Linked DNA regions of Homo sapiens: all the other regions are linked to region 2. The links come from fine-mapping of genetic effects on gene expression. A gene starts in region 2. Each other region holds a variant in brackets. All regions are shown on one strand. Distances are from middle to middle.

Region 1 (6,460 bases), 370 kb before region 2:
TATTATCCTCATTTTATTAATGAGGAAGTTAAGGCACAAAGAAGTTAAATAACTTGCTAAAGAGGCTTCTCACCAGGCCAGGCGCGGTGGCTCACGCCTGTAATCCCAGCACTTTGGGAGGCCGAGGCGGGCGGATCATGAGGTCAGGAGATCAAGACCATCCTGGATAACACGGTGAAACCCTGTCTCTACTAAAAATGCAAAAAATTAGCCGGCCGTGGTGGCGGGTGCCTGTAGTCCCACGCTACTCGGGAGGCTGAGGCAGGAGAATGGCGTGAACCTGGGAGGTGGAGCTTGCAGTGAGCCGAGATTGCGCCACCGCACTCCAGCGTGGGCGACAGAGCGAGACTCTGCCTCAAAAAAAAAAAAAAAAAAAAAAAAAAAAAGAGAGGCTTCTCACTAAAGGGCAACTTACACGAGCTTGAGTAGTGTGGAAGAGCTACCTGGAGGAAGTGGTAACTAAGTGGAGACCTAAAATTTAAGTCCGAGTTAGGAAGGTGAAGAGAGGGGAGAAAGAGGGAAGACTGTTCTAGGCTGAGAGACCTGCAAAGGCACAAGGTCAGAGAATGGGTCTGCTGGAGGGTCAGAGTAGAATTTGGGGAAGTCACTGGAGAAGTAGCTGGGAAAAGATGGAAGGCTTTTACAGTCCCTTTAAGGAATTTTAATTTTGATCCTAAGGATAAAAGGAAGCCCTTGAAGGGTTTTAAACTGGAGAGTGTGCTGATCACATTGTATTGAATACAGATGGCTCTTGCTGCAATGTAGAGATTGTGTTGGATGGATAGCTGGGAGACATTTTAAAGGCTGTTAAAATCAGATTCTAAGGCCAGGCACGGTGGCTCACGCCTGTAATCCCAGCACTTTGGGAGGCTGAGGCGGGTGGACCACGAGGTCAGGAGTTCGAGACCAGCCTGACCAACATAGTGAAATCCCATCTCTACTAAAAAATTTTAAAAATTAGCTGGGCGTGGTGGTGCGCACCTGTAATCCCAGCTACTTGGGAGACTGAGGCAGGAGAATTGCTTGAACCTGGGAGACAGAGGTTGCAGTGAGTGGAGATTGCGCCATTGCACTACAGCCTGGGCGACAGAGCGAGACTCCATCTCAAAAAAAAAAAAAAAAAAATCAGATTCTAGGCTGGCGTGGTGGCTCGTGCCTGTAATCCCAGCACTTTGGGCGGATCCCTTGAGGTCAAGAGTTTGAGACCAGCCTGGCCAATATGGCAAAACCGTCTCTACTAAAAATAACGAACGTTAGCCAGGCATGGTGGCACCTGCCGGTAATCCCAGCTACTCGGGAAGCTGAGCCAGGAGAATTTCTTGGACCTGGGAGGCGGAGGCTGCATCATGTCCCTGCAGCCAGGGTGACAGAGTGAGACTTTGCCTCCAAAAAAAAAAAAAAACAAACAAAAAGAAATCAGATCCTAGGCAAGAAACGATAGAAGAGGAGATTTGGGGAGAGGGCTTTTTTTTTTTTTTGAGAAAGGGTCTTCTACTGTTGCCCACAATGGAGTTTAGTGACATGATCATAGCTCACTGCAGCTCAAGCTTGGGCTCAAGTGACCCTCCTGTGTCAGCCTCCCAAGTTAGCTGGGACTATAGATGTGCACCATCATGCCTGGCTAATTTTTAAAATTTTTTTATTTTTTTGAGACAGAGTCTTGCTTTGTCGCCCAGGCTACAGTGCAGTGGCATGATCTCAGCTCACTGCAACCTCCACCTCCCAGGTTCAAGCAATTCTCCTGCCTCAGCCTCCCAAGTAGCTGGGACTACAGGCACACACCACCATACCCAGCTAATTTTTTTTTTTTTTTTTTAGTAGAGACAGGGTTTCACCATGTTGGCCAGGCTGGTCTTGAACTCCTGACCTCGTGATCCACCTGCATTCGCCTCCCAAAGTGCTGGGATTACAGGCATGAGCCACCGCGCCCTGCTATTTTTTTAAACTTTTTATTTGTACAGATGGGGTGTCAATGTGCTTCCCAGGCTGGTATTGAACTCCTGAGCTCAAGAGATCCTTCCGCCTCAGCCTTCCAAAGTGCTGAGATTATAGGCATAGGCTACTGCTCTAGGCAGAGGGCAAAATTGACAGGGTCTAGTGATGGTTTGACAGGGACAGTTGTGTGCGGTTTGGGGAGCAGAGTTAAGGAGGATGCTCCCAGGTCCTGGTTTGGGCAGCAGGGTGGATGACAGAACCGTCAGGGGCTAGAGAACACAGTGGGGGGTGGGAGGGGCAGGCTGTGGCGAGGGGCTGGGTGGAGATATTTGGGTCTTGAACTTGCCAATTTACGTGCCTGAAGGACACCCGGATGGAGGTATGTTGAGGGTGGCTGGATGTGTGGTCTGGAGCACAGGAAAGGTCAGCACAGGCGCAACAGCTGAAGCCTTGGAGAGGAGCAAGTGGATGCTGAGTGAGAAGACAAGGTGAAGGACAGAGCCTGGGGAGCCCCAACATTTATGGGCAAAGGAAAAGAGGAGACTGCAAAGGAAACCGAGAAACTTCCCTAAAAGGAAAAAGAATAGCCAGGAGGGAGCAGTATCCCAGGTGCCCAAGGAAGATGCTTGTGGGAGGCACAGCGAGCAGCATCAGGACCACAGGGAACCGAAGAGATGTGCTGAAATGTGCTCCTTGGATTTGGCAAGTCGGAGGAGTCACTGGAAATCTCTTCAAACTGGAGGGCATGCGAATCAGAGGGACTAAGCTGGGCAAGAGGATGCTGAAGGACTAAATGGCTGTGTGGAGGTTCTAGGACTCAGTGAAAGGGTAAGAGACCAGAGGGCCTCGGGAGGGCAGGAGGAGGAAAGAGAAGGATCCAACCCCCCGACCCCGCCACCCCATGCACTTCCTTAGATCTTTTTGGCTCCTGCTGGGCCCCCTTCTTAGTTGTCTGAAAGAACCTCTGATGGGCACAGGGAAATAGGGTTAGGAGGGCCTCCCTGGGATGCTGGTGGAGGGTGGAGGGTGGAGGAGAATGTATGAATGAAGCACCAAAGCAAGC[C/T]GATCCTGGGACGCCCTTCCCTCCAGGCCTTCGGAGGAAGGAGCCCTATCCTCCTTTGGAGAGGTGGGGCAGAGACCTGGCCTCTCCAGCCCAGTGGCCAAGGGACCCAACAGAATTGTGACCTTTAACCCCTCTTGGAGTCCAGGCATTTCTGACCCCCCACCCACCCCAACAGGGACTTCCAAGTTGGGGTGTGGCTCAGGCTGGTCCCCTGAGAGAACAGTGGGGGATGTTTCATGGTCACCAGAAGGAACAGCCAGGTATGATGGGAAGGGGTGGGAATGCTTTGGAATCCTATCCCATCCTCCTGGGGTTGGGGGGTGGTCTTGGCACAGCTGCCCAGGCCGCAGCCCTGAGCTTGGCCTTCTCCCGCCTCCCCAGGCCCTGTTTGATATGCACATCAGATACTGGTGCCCTTTGCAAAACTGTTACTTGTACAGAAACCTGAGGGAAGACGAAGGAGGGAAACTGCTCCCCTCTCTTTCCTCCCTCCAGCCACTTCCACTTGCAGGGACCTGCAGGGAAATGCCCACCCCCAGCGCTCTCCCTCACCACTCCGAGACTTGCAGCTTCCCCAGCTCCCCACGTGGCCCATGCTGGGAGTTTCTGCTCTGCCGGAAATGGCTGGGCCTTGGAGCTTCCCCCCACCCCCCGGGGCCTCTCTACCTCAGCCCTTCCTCCCCATTTCCCCAGCCCTGAGCTCAGCGCTGCCCTGCACCTCCTCCCCAGCCTGGAGTCTCGCTGGCTGTGGCATATTTGCCTCAAGCCTCCCCAGTTCCCTTCATCTCCAAGAATGGAGTTAGAGCCTCACCCTAGTCTGTCCGCTGAGCAGCTCCCGAGATGCCCACTGTGCCCTAAGGGTGCAGGAGATGGCAGCAGGGGATGGGAAGCAGGCCATGTGAGGCAGGCCAGGGCTAGGAGAAAAAGAATGGGCTTTGGAGCGGATGGGCCAGGATTACATGCCCTCTGCCTGCGGCCTTCCAGCTTGTGTCCTGGACCCGCTTCCTGTCTATGAATGGAGGTGGTAATACCACCCCACAGAGCCCTGGTGGGGACCAAATGAACAAGGAATGAAGTGCCCAACACGCTGCTTGCCACATAGCAAGTAGGTGCTTAAAACAACATCCTCCTCTCCTCCTCGGGATGCTGATGAAGAGGGTCTGTGCAGAGGACTCTCCAAGAGGCTAGGGGCACCTGGTGTGGGGGTGCAGGGCTCTTTTGTATCACTGAGGGGCCTTTGGGGGAGGAGGGGAGGGAATGCTGAGCCCTGGGCCACTCCAGTGCCTCTGCTCACTGCATTCCTTGGCCTGGCCTGGGGAGGACCTCTGGGAAAGGCTTCTCGCAGTGGAAGATCTCGTGGGGAGGGCCTGGTGTTGGGGGGACAGCATCTGGGTTTTGAACACCCTCGGCACATACAGACTCCCCCAACTCATAATCCGATTTATATTCCTACTCCCTCCTCTGGACCCATCACCATGGCAACAGTTTTCTCAGTTGCACTTCATCAGCTTCCCAGCGAATCTTTTCTCCTGCCCCCTCCTTAAGTCTCTTTTTCTCCTCCTCTGTCAGTCGGCCTTTTGAGGTACTCACAGCGCTCCCCTCCCCTTTGTCCCTCAGCTTCTGTTTCTCTCCTGCTCTTCACGAAGGTGTCCCTGCCTGCCTCTGTCCACATCTCTCTCTGTGGCATCCCTCCTGCCTCTCCCTTTTCAAGTGCACGATTGCAGCAACAAGCTGGGGTCTGTTGATTAGACAAGAACTTGTGTCCTTTCTGATATCAGGACAGAAAAGCAGAGTCCTGGAGGGTTTCGATTCCAGTGGGCTCTGCACAGATTTCTGTCTGCAGTGATGCAGTGGGTGGGTGGGTGTCAGCTTGGGTTGATCTTTGCAACTCTGACCAGGAGGCAGAGAATGGTGGGGAGGGAAAGCAGTGTGGGGCAGTTTCTTCTCCAGCCCTAAGTCATGGCTCCGGATGTGTCCTACAGGGTCCTGTCCTTGGTTCGCTTCCCAGCTCACCCTCAGAAACCTCACCCAATGCCTGCAGCTACCACTGGCATGCGGTGCTTCCCAGGAACATAACTTTGGCTCTGACTTCTCTTTCTCTGAAGTTCTAATCGAATCGCTTCACCTCCTCACTGGTCATGTCCACTTGGTATCCTACTGCCATGCCTAATGCAGTGACTAACCATGAACCATCTTCCCCAAGCCATCACCCCCTTCGTACTTCCCTGTCACTACCCAGAGTAAAAACCTTGGTGCTACGTGTGACTCCTCTCTCTGTCATCCTCCACACCTCACTTGAGTCCAAGGTGGATCAATTCTCCTTTGGAAATGTCATTCAGATCTGCTTCCTTCCCTTTGCCATTCCATACATATTATCCTAGACCAAGCCCCAGCCCCAGTGAGTCATCTCAGGCCCTCACAGTAGCCTCAGAGGTGGACTTTCCACTTGGGTTTACCACAAGTGTAGTCCCTCTTCAGAAACCAGACCTGGCCAGGTGCCATGGCTCATGCCTGTAATTCTAGCACTTTGGGAGGCCAAGGCGGGTGGATGACTTGAGGTCAGGAGTTCAAGACCAGCCTGGCCAACATGGTGAAACCCCCACTAAAAATACAAAATTACCTGGACATGGTGGCACATGCCTGTAATCCCTGCTATTCAGGAGGCTGAGGCAGGAGAATCACTTGAACCCGGGAGGTGGAGGTTCCAGTGAGCCGAGATCGTGCCACTGCACTCTAGCCTGGGCAATAGAGTGAGACACTACTAGACCTGGGCCTGTCCTGAGCATGACTTTCTTCTCCTCCTCCTCACCCTCCCATTTTTCTTCTTCATTTATTGAGCACCTGTTATGTACTAGGCTTGTCATATATGCTATCTCTTTTAATCTTCACAATAAATCCTAAGGTAGTTGTTATCGCATTTTACAGGAGAAGAAACAGATGCTCAGAGCGGTTAATTTGCCCAAAGTTCTACAGCTAATAAGCAATAGACCTGGAATTGTAGATCAGATCCAGATCTGTTGAGTTCCAGGGTTAGTGTTTTGTTTTTTTGCTATACCAGATTGTTCCTTGTATCACTCTTCACTCAAAAACCTTCTGAGCCTTTCTATTTTCTTCTTTTGAGGCTCATTTTGATCTGACTCCATCCCACCTACAAAACCATTTATTCTTGCTACTTCTCAGTGTGACATGGATTGGTACCAAGCGGAAGAACATTTGCATACTTTAGGGTTTTGTCTCCATCTCTTTCCTGTTAAATATTTTTATTAACAGCTTATATGAAAATATAGTATCACATTTCACAGATATAACCCTTGAGGGATAGTAAACATTGAAAGATAAGGATCCAAGAATCATCTCCATGTATAGAATGGTTAGGTAAACCTAACAGAATAAAGTGATCAGAGATCTATGTAAGACCTCAGCAATACACAGTGGGCCAGACATGGCTTAGAAGAAGTTCAG
Region 2 (6,416 bases):
GTTCTAACCACTTTGGAACAATATTTTATAGTAACATTAGGCTGCCAGAAGGCAAATTGTCTAACCATAACAAATTGTGTGTGCAAGAGAGATACAAGAATAACAGGTGGTATAATAATTCAGGATAAATATGCACAACTCTCTCTCAAAAAAAGTCAAGTTCTTTCTTGAATCTCTAAATGCTTCAGGATCCCTTACTTCCAGAATTATAGTCACCTTCTCCTTTGTAATTCACCGCAATATTTTATACACATATACATGCACACACAATTCATGGTCATATTAAGGCTAGTTTCTATAATTGTCAGGGAGGACTGTTCTGTCTTTTCTATTTATATGAAGCTATTATAGATAAAATCAGAGAGAAGATTACAATAAAATGTAGACCACATACGAAACCTAAAACTTGAAAAGTAATTTACTCAGTGAGGGTTTTAAGTCCATCACATTTCTATTCTAAAACAAAAGCTTGCAGAGAATTAAAACACACACACACACACACACACACACCCGTTATCAGTTTCTGCAGTGAACTTCTATATGAAGACATAAATAGATGGCAAATCAATGGAAACTCAAGAGAATCATTTTCTTTCTTTGCTGTCCCTCAAAACACAATTAAAAAGATACATAAATAATACAGGGGCCGGGCGCCATGGCTCACACCTATAATCCCAGCACTTTGGGAGGCCGAGGCGGGCAGATCACGAGGTGAGGAGATCGAGACTATCCTGGCTAACATGGTGAAACCCCGTATCTACTAAAAATACAAAAAAGTAGTTGGGCGTGGTGGCAGGCGCCTGCAGTCCCAGCTACTCAGGAGGCTGAGGCAGGAGGATAGCTTGAACCCGGGAGGCAGAAGTTGCAGTGAGCTGAGATTGTGCCACTGCACTCCAGCCTGGAGACAGAGCGAGAATCCGTCTCGAAAACCAAACAAACAAGAAAAAAAGTCAGAACATGTTCTCATTAATTTGCAGAATACAAAAAAAAGATCAAATCAAGGCCCGCATGCCTACAGTCCCAGCTACTTGGGATATGGAGGCGGGAGGATTGCTTGAGGCTAGGAGTTCTAGGCCGCAGTGCACTATGATAGCGCCTGTGAATAGCTACTGCCCTCCAGCCTGGGCAACATAGTGAGACCCTGTCTCTTTAAAAAAAAAAAATCAAAAGATGCCTTTCTTTGTACTTTATTTTATGATGAAGTCATGAGAAAGCATTTGTTTCTGCATTTGTTCACTTATTTATCTATTGGAACTTTGCAGTCTAGGACATTCTGCACTTCAATAACTAAAGCCAAAGGGAATTTATTTTTTAAAAAATCAATGTTTACGTACTGATATCTGCAACTTACTTTGAAATGTATATTTTTTTTTAATGGAGAGAGGGATGGATGGATGATTAGATGCATGATAAAATATAGTGAAATGTTAGTTATAGAATCTAGTTGGTGGTTATATGGGTATTCACTACAAAGTTCTTTCAACTTTTCCAGATGTTGGAAAATTTCATAATGAAATGTTGAGCTAAAATAAACGCTGGAAATTTTGATACAACTTTTAGATAAAAATTTCACCCTATCTGGACATTTCTACTGTCCAGGGATCTGTTTGTAAAGGAGCAGGACCCAAAAACATTACACAGAAATCATACCAATGTCTTAACACTCTACAGAGCAGAATGTACTGAGATAAATTGTTCTCCAGAGTACACAAATCTGTGGGTATCTGGATCATGTTAAGTCCCAAATAATTCAGAAATATGTGACACAACTCTATGTATACGTACACATGTCAAAATAGCATGCAAAAGTTATATTTTATATATATCACGTAGGGCTTTACCATCCCTCAGTTATCAATGAATTAAAAATACTAAGTTCCAAGAACCTTTTAACAAAGAATATTTTTAGAAAGATTACCTTTATCTGGTTTATATAATACAAGACCTTAACTTTACTATTAAAATAAAAATATGCTCTAAAATGCATTATTAATTCCAGGGTGTAAACGGGAACTGAGTTTCAAAATCACTAACCAAATACAGAACCTCCTGGAGAAACTGAAAATACAAGTTTCTGGAAATTTTGTGTCCAACACAAAAATTTTAGGAGGCAAACCTGTTTGATGCAATTTATATACCTGAGGCTGAGAAAAGCTGTTCAGTGGCCTAAAGTCCAAGCATGAATTCCCCCCATTATCCAAGTTCTTATCTAAAGGGTTGTCAATAGAACTTATTAGGATTGCCACCAAATTACATTCTGCCATCTCTCAGGTACACTGGACGATGTTTTAAATCAAGTTATCTATTGACAAAAGAATAAAAAAGAACAGAACAGAACATCCTTCAAAAGACTAAAGGACATAAGGTGCACTGAAAAATAAATTACTAGCTTTTTTGAAACCAAAGAATGTCTACTACTTCATGAATATCCACAAATCACAGCGATAAAGGAAGATTGAGTGATGTCAGCAGTTCTGATTTCCTCCATCCTCAACCACATTAACCTTTCTCATCCTTGTAACAGATGAGTATACAAAGATAACGCATGGGAAGGCAAGTAACTGGTCTCGGAGGCTAACCCATCCCTCTTACTCCACCTCCTGTGAGACATCTGACTACGACATGCCACATACACATTTTTCTTCACCTGGACAATAAGTTCCTTGAAGGCAAACCCTGTGTTCTCTGGAACCTGCTCACATTTTCCCAGTGGTCTACACAGTGTATGTACCCCGAGTCACACTAACAAATGGACACAAGTGAGTTCTGCGGAAGTAGTGGAAGGTTTCAGAGACACTTGGGTCCTATACATTAGTGTTAGAAGTTACTCCTTTCCGCTCTGTGTCTCCATTTCCCCCTTCTGAACAAAAAGAAAAATTTCTGGACACCAGTGGATTTGCATTTCGAGTTATCAACGGCCTAGCAAACACCGGGGGTGGGAGACAAGCTCTGATTAACAGAAGGACCAGAACCTCCGGAGACAGGCCCAGCCTGCTGAGCCTAAGCGCCAGGGAACCGGCGGGACAGCATCAGTTCCGAGGTCCGCAGCCTGGGACCCGCACCACCACCACGAAGTTCTCGCAGAGCAAAAACGCCGGGCCGTCTCAGGGGCAGGTCCCAGCAAACGAGGGAGTCCAGCTGGTTGGGGGGTGGTGCGGAAGCGGGCACGACGACAGATGGACTGGAGTCAGCTCCATCGGATCTCCAGGAGACCGGGCACAGGAGGCCACACTGCTCCCCGAGCCCGGAGCAAAAGCACTCTGCCCTAGACCCTCAGGGCGGGGCTCCTCCGGCCCCTGCCCCAGGCCCGCCGACAAGGAGAGACGGTGAGGCTCGGACCCCAGGAGTTCGGGTCCTGGCTCGGATCTTACCATGGTGAGGGCGGTGGTGGGGCGCGCCCGCACTCCGGCTCCACTGGGGATAGGGGTAGGGTCTGGGGAACGGGAGCACCAGCAGCTCTGGACCTGCTGCCCCCTTGACAGGAACCGCTGCCGCTTCGCCTCTTGCCAAGATGGCGGCCCCAAGCCACGTCTTCAACCGGAAGCGGCGCAGGTCAAAGGGCGGGGGGGGGGGCGGGGCCTGTGGGCTGGGGAAATTGAGGGTACCCCGCTCCGGTTACGATTAAGCCCAGGAGGTGTAGGGGGCGTTCACCCTCCAGCTGTGGAACCTCGTATCTCTCCCCTTTCACTGTCATCGCCTTCATTTATTTTGCGTCACATCTTACAGTTTAACAAGCCGCTGGCACAGCCACTATTATTTAATATACAGGATAACCTGTGTGCCTAAAAGACCAGTATCCGGAATATATAAAGAACTTTTTTTTTTTTTTTTTGAGATGGAGTCTCACTCTGTCGCCCAGGCTGGAGTGCAATGGCGTGATCTCGGCTCACTGCAACCTCCACTTCCCAGGTTCAAGCGATTCTTCTGCCTCAGCCTCCGGAGTAGCTGGGATTACAGGCACGCGCCACACCACGCTCGGCTGTTTTTTGTATTTTTAGTTGAGACGGGGTTTCACCATGTCGGCCAGGCTAGCCTCAAACTTCTGACCCCAAGTGATCCGCCCGCCTCAGCCTCCCAATGTTGGGATTACAGGCGTCAGCCACCGCGCCTGGCCTAAGAACTCTTATAACTCAGCAATAAAAAGACAAATACAGTATTCCTGTCTAAAAATGGGCTTCATCTGCAAAATGGAGGGAGTAGAAAACACAAAATTAAAATGAGCAAAAGATTTGAATAGATATGTGTCCAAAGAAGATATATAAATGGCTAATATGCACATTAAGAAATGTTGAATATCCTTAGGGAAATGGAAATCAGACCCGTGGTGAGACGTCATTTCACACTCACTAGGATGGCTATCATAATAATTGTTGGTGAGGATGAATGTAAAATAGTGCAGCCACGTTGGAAAAGAGTTTGGCAGTTCCTCAAAAAGTTAAACAAAATTACCACATGACTGAGCAATTCCACTCATAGGTACATACCCAGGAGAACTGAATATATGTCAACACAAAAATGTGTACTCTAATGTTCATAGCAGCATTATTCATAGTAGCCAAAAAGTGGAGACAATCCAAACAAATCCATTCATCAATAGATGTGGCATATATATGCAATGGAATATTATTTAGTCACAAAAAGGAATAAAGTACTGACATGCTACAATATGGATGAACCTTGAGAATATTATGTGAAAAAAGACGGATACAATGGGGCACTCATATATGATTCCATTAATACGAAAGATCCAGAATAGAAGAAAATCCACAGAGACAGAAACTAGCTTAGTGATTTCCAGGGGCTCAGGAAGGGTAGGAATAGAGAGTGACAGTTAATTAGTGTAAGATTTATTTCTGGAATAATTAAAACATTCTGGAATTAAGCCAGGCATGGTGGCATGATCCTAGAGTCCCAGCTACTTGGGAGGCTGAGTTGGGAGGATGGCTTGAGACCAGGGGTTAAAGGTCAGCCTGTGCAAATTGTGAGACTTAGACTCTTAAAAAAAAAATAGTTCTGGAACTAGATAGAGGCAAATATACTAAAAACCACTAAATTGTATAATTTTAAAAGGTGAATTTTTATGATTTGTAAATTATATCTTTAAAAAAACATGCACTGGAAGCAGGGCAGTTGTGCTCATGTCCATTTTGTATATGAAGAAAATGGTGAAAAGTTTAAGTGACTTACCCAAAGTTTCTAAACCAGTATATGATGGAACCAAGACTCAAAATCTGTTCTTGTGATTCTCATGTTATTTCTTGTATGCCAAATTTCAGATTTTTCAGAGTATAGCTGATTCAGTAGTTCTTCCTTAAATCATTTTATCCTACATCCTTAGCTCAACCGAACAGCACTCATCCATATTAAACCTGTATGTCCACAATTAAGTATAATAGCAACTTTTAATTGAGTGCTTCATTTGTGTCAGGTACTTTACACATGTTATTTCCAATCTTTTACATCAATCCAAATAAAGATACTGAGGATCAAAAAAGTTAAGCATTTGTCCAAACTCACACAACTAGTAAGTGGTAGAGCCAAGTTCAAAGTCAGTTTTCTCCTGGCTGGGCGCGGTGGCTCACGCCTGTAATCCCAGCACTTTGGGAGGCTGAGGTGGGCGGATCACAAGGTCAAGAGATCGAGACCATCCTGGCCAACATGGTGAAACCCCATCTCTACTAAGAGTACAAAAAAAAAAAAATTAGCTGGGCATGGTGGCGCGTGCCTGTAGTCTCAGCTGTTCGGGAGGCTGAGGTGGGGGAATCCTTGAAGCTAGGAGGCGGAGGTTGGGTTGCAGTGAGCCGAGATCATGCCACTGCACTCCAGCGTGGCGACAGAGGGAGACTCCGTCTCAAAAAAAAAAAAAAAAAAAAAAAGCTGGGCGTGGTGTCTCATGCCTGTACTCCCAGCTATCTGGGAAGCTGAGGCATGAGAATTGGTTGAACCTGGGAGGCGGAGGTTGCAGTGAGTTGAGATCACAACACTGCCCTCCAGACTGGGCAACAGAGTAACACTCAGTCTCAAAACAAACAAACAAAAAAACAAAGTCAGCTTTTTCCATTAAAACACACTGCCTCTGTATCTCCTGTGTGTTCCCTAACATTTATTGAACACTTACAGCATACCAGCCATTACTCTAACTTCACACAGATTATCTCATTTAATCCTCACAAGAATCCTCTGAGATAGGTACCTTTATTGTCTCCATTTTACACATGAGGAAATCAAGGTACAGAGAAGAAAACTATCCCACCACAGGTCTCATGGCTAAAAAGTAGGTAAGCGAGGATTCAAACAAAGGCTGTTCAACTTTGGACTATACCCTTAAGCACTGCATTATAGACTTCTTGCTCTTACCCGTATCAATTCCATCTCCAATGGCCTTCTAATAGAAATCTTTAGAAAGCTCAAATATT
Region 3 (6,172 bases), 28 kb after region 2:
ATTGTAGTGAGCCAAGATAGCGCCACTACACTCCAGCCTGGGCGAAAGAGTGAGACTCTGTCTCAAAAAAAAAAAAAAAAAAAAGAAAAGAAAAGAAAAGTAAAAGGAGCTGGACACGGTGGCTCATGCCTGTAATCCCAGCACTTTGGGAGGCTGAGGCAGGTGGATCACCTGAGGTCTGGAGTTTGAGACCAGCCTGGCCAACATGGTGAGACCCCTGTCTCTATTGAAAACACAAAAAAATTAGCCGGGCCTGGTGGCGCACATCTGTAATCCCAGCTACTCAGGAGGCTGAGACAGGAGAATTGCTTGAATCCAGGAAGTGGAGGTTGCAGAGAGCCAAGATCATGCCACTGCACTCCAGTCTGGGCAACAGAGCAAGACTCCGTCTCAAAAAAGAATTTTTTTAAAGTATCAAAACAGAAAAGGAAACTGAACAAAGATGACCAACAGGTCCTTCCTAGCCATCATGTTTAAACTGCTGCACCAGCTCCCCAGCATTCCCCGCCCTCTGTCCCTGCTTTTTCTTGATAACACTTATCTTCTAACATACCATAGACTTTATTTACTTATTTTGTTCTTCCCTACTAAAATGTAAGCTCTACAAAGACAGATTTTTTTTGTATATGAAGAATTGATTGTAAACACACAGAATTTGGAAACAGTCTCTTTCCTCAGAGCATTTTGAAGCTGTAGTTGAGGGGAAGGTGTCTGATTAGGGGATTGAATAGCTAGGTTGCAGTACATCCATTCAGTGAAATACTATGCAATGGAATATTATTTGGCCTTATTTTGCTCTAATATGAAGAAATATCAGTGATATGTTGTTAAATGAAAAAAGCAAATTGCAGCAAGTTGCAGAACTATATGTACTCTGTTTTTTGTAAAAAGAGAAAAGTTTTAAGAAACCAGTAGTTTAAAAACTTCACACTGTGACTTGTTTAGATCCAGAGCCTGTTACCTGAGTTAGATGTCATGCCCATTTTCTCTGTTCATATGGTGTCCTGGAATCATTAGGCATTATAACACCAAGTAATGCATATATAACTGTTAATACTTGCCCATAACTTGGTATCAGTTTCTTTTTCACAGATTCCCACAGGAAAAGAGTATGGCAGTGTATTTTACCTATAAAACATATGACCAATTCCATACTGATCGGGGGAAAAAATAGCATGTTGTATTATTTTGCTAGGCTGCCATAACAAAGTACCATAGACTGAGTGGCTTAGACATCAGAAATGTATTATTTCATAGTTCTGGAGGCTAGTAGTCCAGTAGTAGTCCAAGATCAATTTGTTGGCATGGTTGATTCCCTCCCTCCCTTCCTTCCTTTTTTTTTACAGGGTATTACTCTATGCCCAGGCTGGAGTGCAGTAGCTCAATCTCAGCTCACTGCAGCCTCAACCTGCTGGACTCAAGCAGTCCTCCCACCCCAGCCTCCCAAGTAGCTGGGACTACAGATACTCAACACCACACCCGGCTAATTTTTTTGTAGAGATGGAATTTCACCATGTTGCCCAGGCTGGTCTCGAACTCCTAGGCTCAGGCGATCTGCCCACCTCAACCTCCCACAGTGCTGGTATTACAGGCGTGAAGCCACCACGCCCCACCAAGATTGATTTCTTCTGAGGGGTCTCTTCTTGGCCATCTTCTGTGTCTTCCCATGGTCTTCCCTCTGTTATGCGTCTTTGTCCTGATTTCTTCTTCCTATAAGGACACCAGTCATACTGGATTAAGGCCCACCCTAATGACCTTGTTTTAATTTAATTATCTCTTTAAAGATGTTATCTCCAAATATAGTCACATTCTGAAGTACAGGGAGTTAGGAACTCAATATCTGAATTTTAGGGGAACACATTTCAGCCCATAACCTGTGTCTTATGCTAGAAGCTCTTTTGCTTCAGAGAGAGAGAGTGGTTCTGGGACCACTGACACCATCCTTTTGACTTTGGTCCTTCCATGCCCCTTCCAGGTAAGCCTGCCCACGGCAGAGATTGATTGCAGCCTGGCAGAGTACATTGACATGATCTGTGGTGAGTTCCTCTTTCCTTTCCTCGTCCCCATCTCTGGATAGAGACACTCTAGGCTTTTGGACAGGCTTGTTTACTCTGGGAAGATAGTATCTTGAGTTTCAGCCTTCACTTTAAGCCCGTTGTGCTCTTTGGCAGCACTCAAAGGTGGTGTTTGGCTTATGTGACTACCTGCTGGGTATTTAACCCCCAAAGTCATAGCGACACCCCATCTGCCAGGGCTTTGCCTGTGCTAGACAGAAGGGCCTCTAATTCCCGGAGTTTGTTTGCTTCTGTTCCTGGAAGTTCTTCTTCGTTTCAGCCATTCTAGACATCCCTGTCTACAAGAGTCGGATCCAGTCCCTCCATCTGCTCTTTTCCCTCTACTCAGAATTCAAGAACTCACAGGTGAGCCAAGCATCAGGGGTTGACTTAAGCTGTAGAGAGGATCACTATAGTTTCTACTGTTCTGAGCCTGCTGTGATTGCATCCTATAGCGATGTAGGATGTCTCTGCCCAGTTACCTTCGCCCTTTCCCATAATTAGGAGAGCAAAGGAGGCAGGGATGGAGTTTTCAAGGGGAAAGTGGAGGAAAAAAAAGGGTGGGTGGAAGTAGGAGTTGTGGGCCTTAGATGAAATCAGGTGAGGATCTACAGAGGACACTCGTTCTTTCAGAACCAAGTTCCCTCATGAATGGAAGCAGGAAGGAAATAAAGGGGGTTCATTTTAAAGAAATTAATTCTTGTTAAAATATAGCAATTAGCATATCCCTAATACTCAATATTCCCTCTCCTCTTCCTTGCAGCATTTTAAAGCTCTCGCTGAAGGCAAGAAAGCATTCACTCCTTCATCCAATTCCACCTCCCAAGCTGGAGACATGGAGACATTAACCTTCAGCTGAGACACTTCCCAAGCTGCTGTTTCAAGGCTGAGCTGGCCCCTCTGCCCCAGCTGAGATGGACAGATCGTTGTCAGCTACTTGATGTCCTTGCCCATGCCACAGCTTGGCTCAGGGGCAGTGCATGTCCTGCTGCCCTCTCTGCCAGAG[G/T]GCACAGAACATGTTTGTTTAATGAACCTGCCTGCCTCAGATTGCTGTCCCCGGGGAGTTAATGCATCTACACCACTGTGGGGATTTGAGTTATAAGAATTGGAATTTCTGAGATCCCATGGAGGTTAGATTGGGAGGAAAGCTTAAAAGATGTCCTTTTTGTGAGAGGGATGGAATTGTTTTCTTTCATTCGTAAAGTTAGTGAGTAAAGATTTTATAAATCAAATGCTCTATTATATTGTCAGATTATTCTGCTATTTAATATGAAAGAGAAAAGGCTGACTGAGCATAACGCAGAGACACAGGAACTTTGCTTAGTAATGGGCATTAAATGAAGAGTAGTTAAAGCAAACAAATTTTGTGAAATAAAATGAAACCCCAATCCTCCAAGATTGGCAGTCGAGGGGAATCATTTTTCCTCTGGAATTTAATTTTTCTAAGGGTCTCTCTTCAGTTAATGCCGCCTTCCTGAGGCTGTCTGGCTCCAGACCTGTCTGGTTCTGGTCTCAGGGAGCGTAGCTATTGCGGTAATCCAGGTGAGAGGTGATTGGGGTGGCAGTAGTAGAGATGGACAGATTCAGTAAATATTTTGGAGTTATGTCAGCCAAGCTCCAGTCAGGAAGTCTGAAACCATGCTAGTTATTTCTAACAAAGGGTGTTTAGCCAGGCACAGTGGCTCACGCCTGTAATCCCAGAACTTTGGGAGGCCCAGGCAGGCAGATCATGTGGTCAGGAGTTCGAGACCAGCCTGGCCAATAATATGGTGAAACCCCACCTCTACTAATAATACAAAAGTTAGCCGGGTGTTTTGGTGCATGCCTGTAGTCCCAGCTAGTCAGGAGACTGAGGCAGAAGAATCACTTGAATCCGTGAGGTGGAGGTTACAGTGAGCTAAGATCGTGGCACTGCACTCCAGCTTGGGCAACAAAGCAAAACTGCATCTCAAAAAAAAAAAAAAAGGGGGTGTTTAATATGGGGAATTGGCCAGGTGCAGTGGCTCATGCCTGTAATCCCAGCACTTTGGGAGGCTGAGGCGGGTGGATCACTTGAGGTCAGCAGTTCAAGACTGGCCTGGCCAACATGGTGAAACCCTGTCTCTACTAAAAATACAAAGAATTAGCTGGGTGTGGTGGTGGGCACCTGTAATCTCAGCTACTCGGGAGGCTGACAGGAGAATCACTTGAACCCAGGAGGTGGCAGTTGCAGCGAGCCAAGATCGCGCCACTGCACTCCAGCCTGGGCAACAGAGCAAAACTCTTTCTCAAAAAAATATATAATAATATGATAAATTGGTTACAAAAGTGTTGTAGAGGCTGAAGGAGCAAAAGGGAGAACGGAGGGTACTGAGGAACATAAAAGTCAAAGGGGTGGTAGTCATTGCCGGCGCTGGTAGCAGAGGTGCTGTCTAAAAAAACAAAACAAAACAAAATCGATACCATCAGCCTAATAGATACACAATAAACACATGGGTAGGAGAGGAACTGTTTCTTACAAACCCTTTAACTATGATCATCATGCTTGAGTTTAAGGAGCAGGCACGTTTGAGCTGATGACAAACTTTGAGCTGACAAAACTGAGGCTTACAGCAACCTCCACCTCCCGGGTTCAAGCGATTCTCCTGCCTATGCCTCCCGAGTAGCTGGGATTACAGGCATGCACCACTACACCCGGCTAATTTGTTTTGTATTTTCAGTAGAGATGGAGTTTCACCGTGTTAGCCAGGGTGGTCTCAATCTGCTGACCTCATGATCCGACTGCCTCAGCCTCCCAAAGTGCTGGGATTACAGGCATGAGCCACTGCGCCCAGCCTCACCCAGCAAATTTTTGGTTTTTTGTTTTGTTTTGTTTGTTTGTTTGAGACAGAGTCTCGCTCTGTCACCGAGGCTGGAGTGCAGTGGTGCGATCTTGGCATACCGCAGCCTCTGCCTTCTGGGTTCAAGCAATTCTCCTGCCTCAGCCTCCCCAGTAGCTGGGATTACAGGCATGCACCACCACGGCTGGCTAATTTTTGTATTTTTAGTAGAGAAGGGGTTTCACCATGTTGCCCAGGCTGGTCTTGAATTCCTGCCTTTAGGTGATCTGCCTGCCTTGGCCTCCCAAAGTGCTGGGATTATAGGAGTAAGCCACTGTGCCCAGGCTTAATTTTTATATATATATTTTTTTGTAGAGACAAGTTCTTGTTATGTTGCCCGGGCTGGTCTCCAACTCCTGGCCTCAACTCATCCTCTGGTCTTGGCCTCCCAAAGTGCTGGGATTATAGGCATGAGCCACTGCGCCTGGCCCTCAATATTTATTTATGATTTGCTATTGTTTGCCTATTTGTCCCCTCCAAAACTCATGTTGAAATTTAATCCTCAATGCGGCCATATCAAGAAGTGGGGCCTTTAAGAGGTGTTTGGGTCACGAGGGCTCTGCCCTGATGAGTGGATTAATCCACTTATAGATTAATGGGTATTAAATGCATTGGCGGCTTATCATGGGAGTGGGACTGGTGGCTTTATAAGAAGAGAGACCTGACTTAGCATGTCCAGCCCCCTTGCCATGTGATGCTCTGCATTGCCTCAGAATTCTGCAGAGTCCCCACAAGCAAAAAGACCCTCACCAGATGTACCCCTCAACCGTGTACTTCCCGGCCCCCAGAATTCTAAGCGAATTAACGCAGGAACAAAAAACCAAACAGTGCATGTTCTTACTTGTAAGTGGGAGCTAAAAAGGCCAGGCACAGTGAGTCACACCTGTAATCCCAGCACTTTGGGAGGCTGAAGCCGGAGGACTGCTTGAGCCCAAACGTTTGAGACCAGCCGGGGAACGAAGTGAAACCACGTCTCTACAAAAAATACAAAATTAGCCAGGCATGATGGTATACACCTGTGGTCCCAGCTACTCGAGAGGCTGAGGTAGGAGGATCGATTAAGCCCGGGAGGTCGAGGCTGCAGTGAGCCGTGATTGTGCCACTGCACTCCAGCCTGGGTGACAGAATGAGACCCTGTCTTAAAACATATATAAAAATAAGTGAGAGCTAAACATGGAGCACACATGGACATAAACATGGGAAGAACAGACACTGTGGACCACTAGAGTGGTTGAAAAACTACCTATTGGATACTATGCT

What was found. PIP is the estimated chance that this variant, and not a neighbour inherited with it, causes the effect.
Region 1: its variant is the best candidate, but not a certain one, in a credible set for the expression of ARCN1 in blood mononuclear cells (TOPMed, PIP 0.56).
Region 3: its variant is the best candidate, but not a certain one, in a credible set for the expression of ARCN1 in whole blood (TOPMed, PIP 0.89).

Annotation. Positions count from the first base shown.
Region 1 is chr11:118,937,576-118,944,035 of GRCh38, reverse strand. No RefSeq gene overlaps it. Among named protein-coding and RNA genes, the nearest start is that of BCL9L, 15 kb to the right of the region's middle. RefSeq lists enhancers at 2,841-3,620, 3,621-4,402. The variant C/T (reference allele first, on the strand shown) is at 2,999.
Region 2 is chr11:118,569,506-118,575,921 of GRCh38, reverse strand. It overlaps ARCN1 (archain 1 coat protein complex I subunit delta), which reads right to left and starts at 3,513. Exons shown (of 10, transcript NM_001655.5): 1 at 3,372-3,513. The coding sequence starts at 3,374. It also overlaps a transcript of IFT46 not described here. RefSeq lists enhancers at 3,132-3,211, 3,722-3,851.
Region 3 is chr11:118,541,657-118,547,828 of GRCh38, reverse strand. IFT46 (intraflagellar transport 46) reads left to right here. Exons shown (of 12, transcript NM_001168618.2): 10 at 1,976-2,036; 11 at 2,335-2,420; 12 at 2,818-3,286. The coding sequence ends at 2,913. It also overlaps a transcript of TMEM25 not described here. Among named protein-coding and RNA genes, the nearest start is that of TMEM25, 14 kb to the right of the region's middle. The variant G/T (reference allele first, on the strand shown) is at 3,061.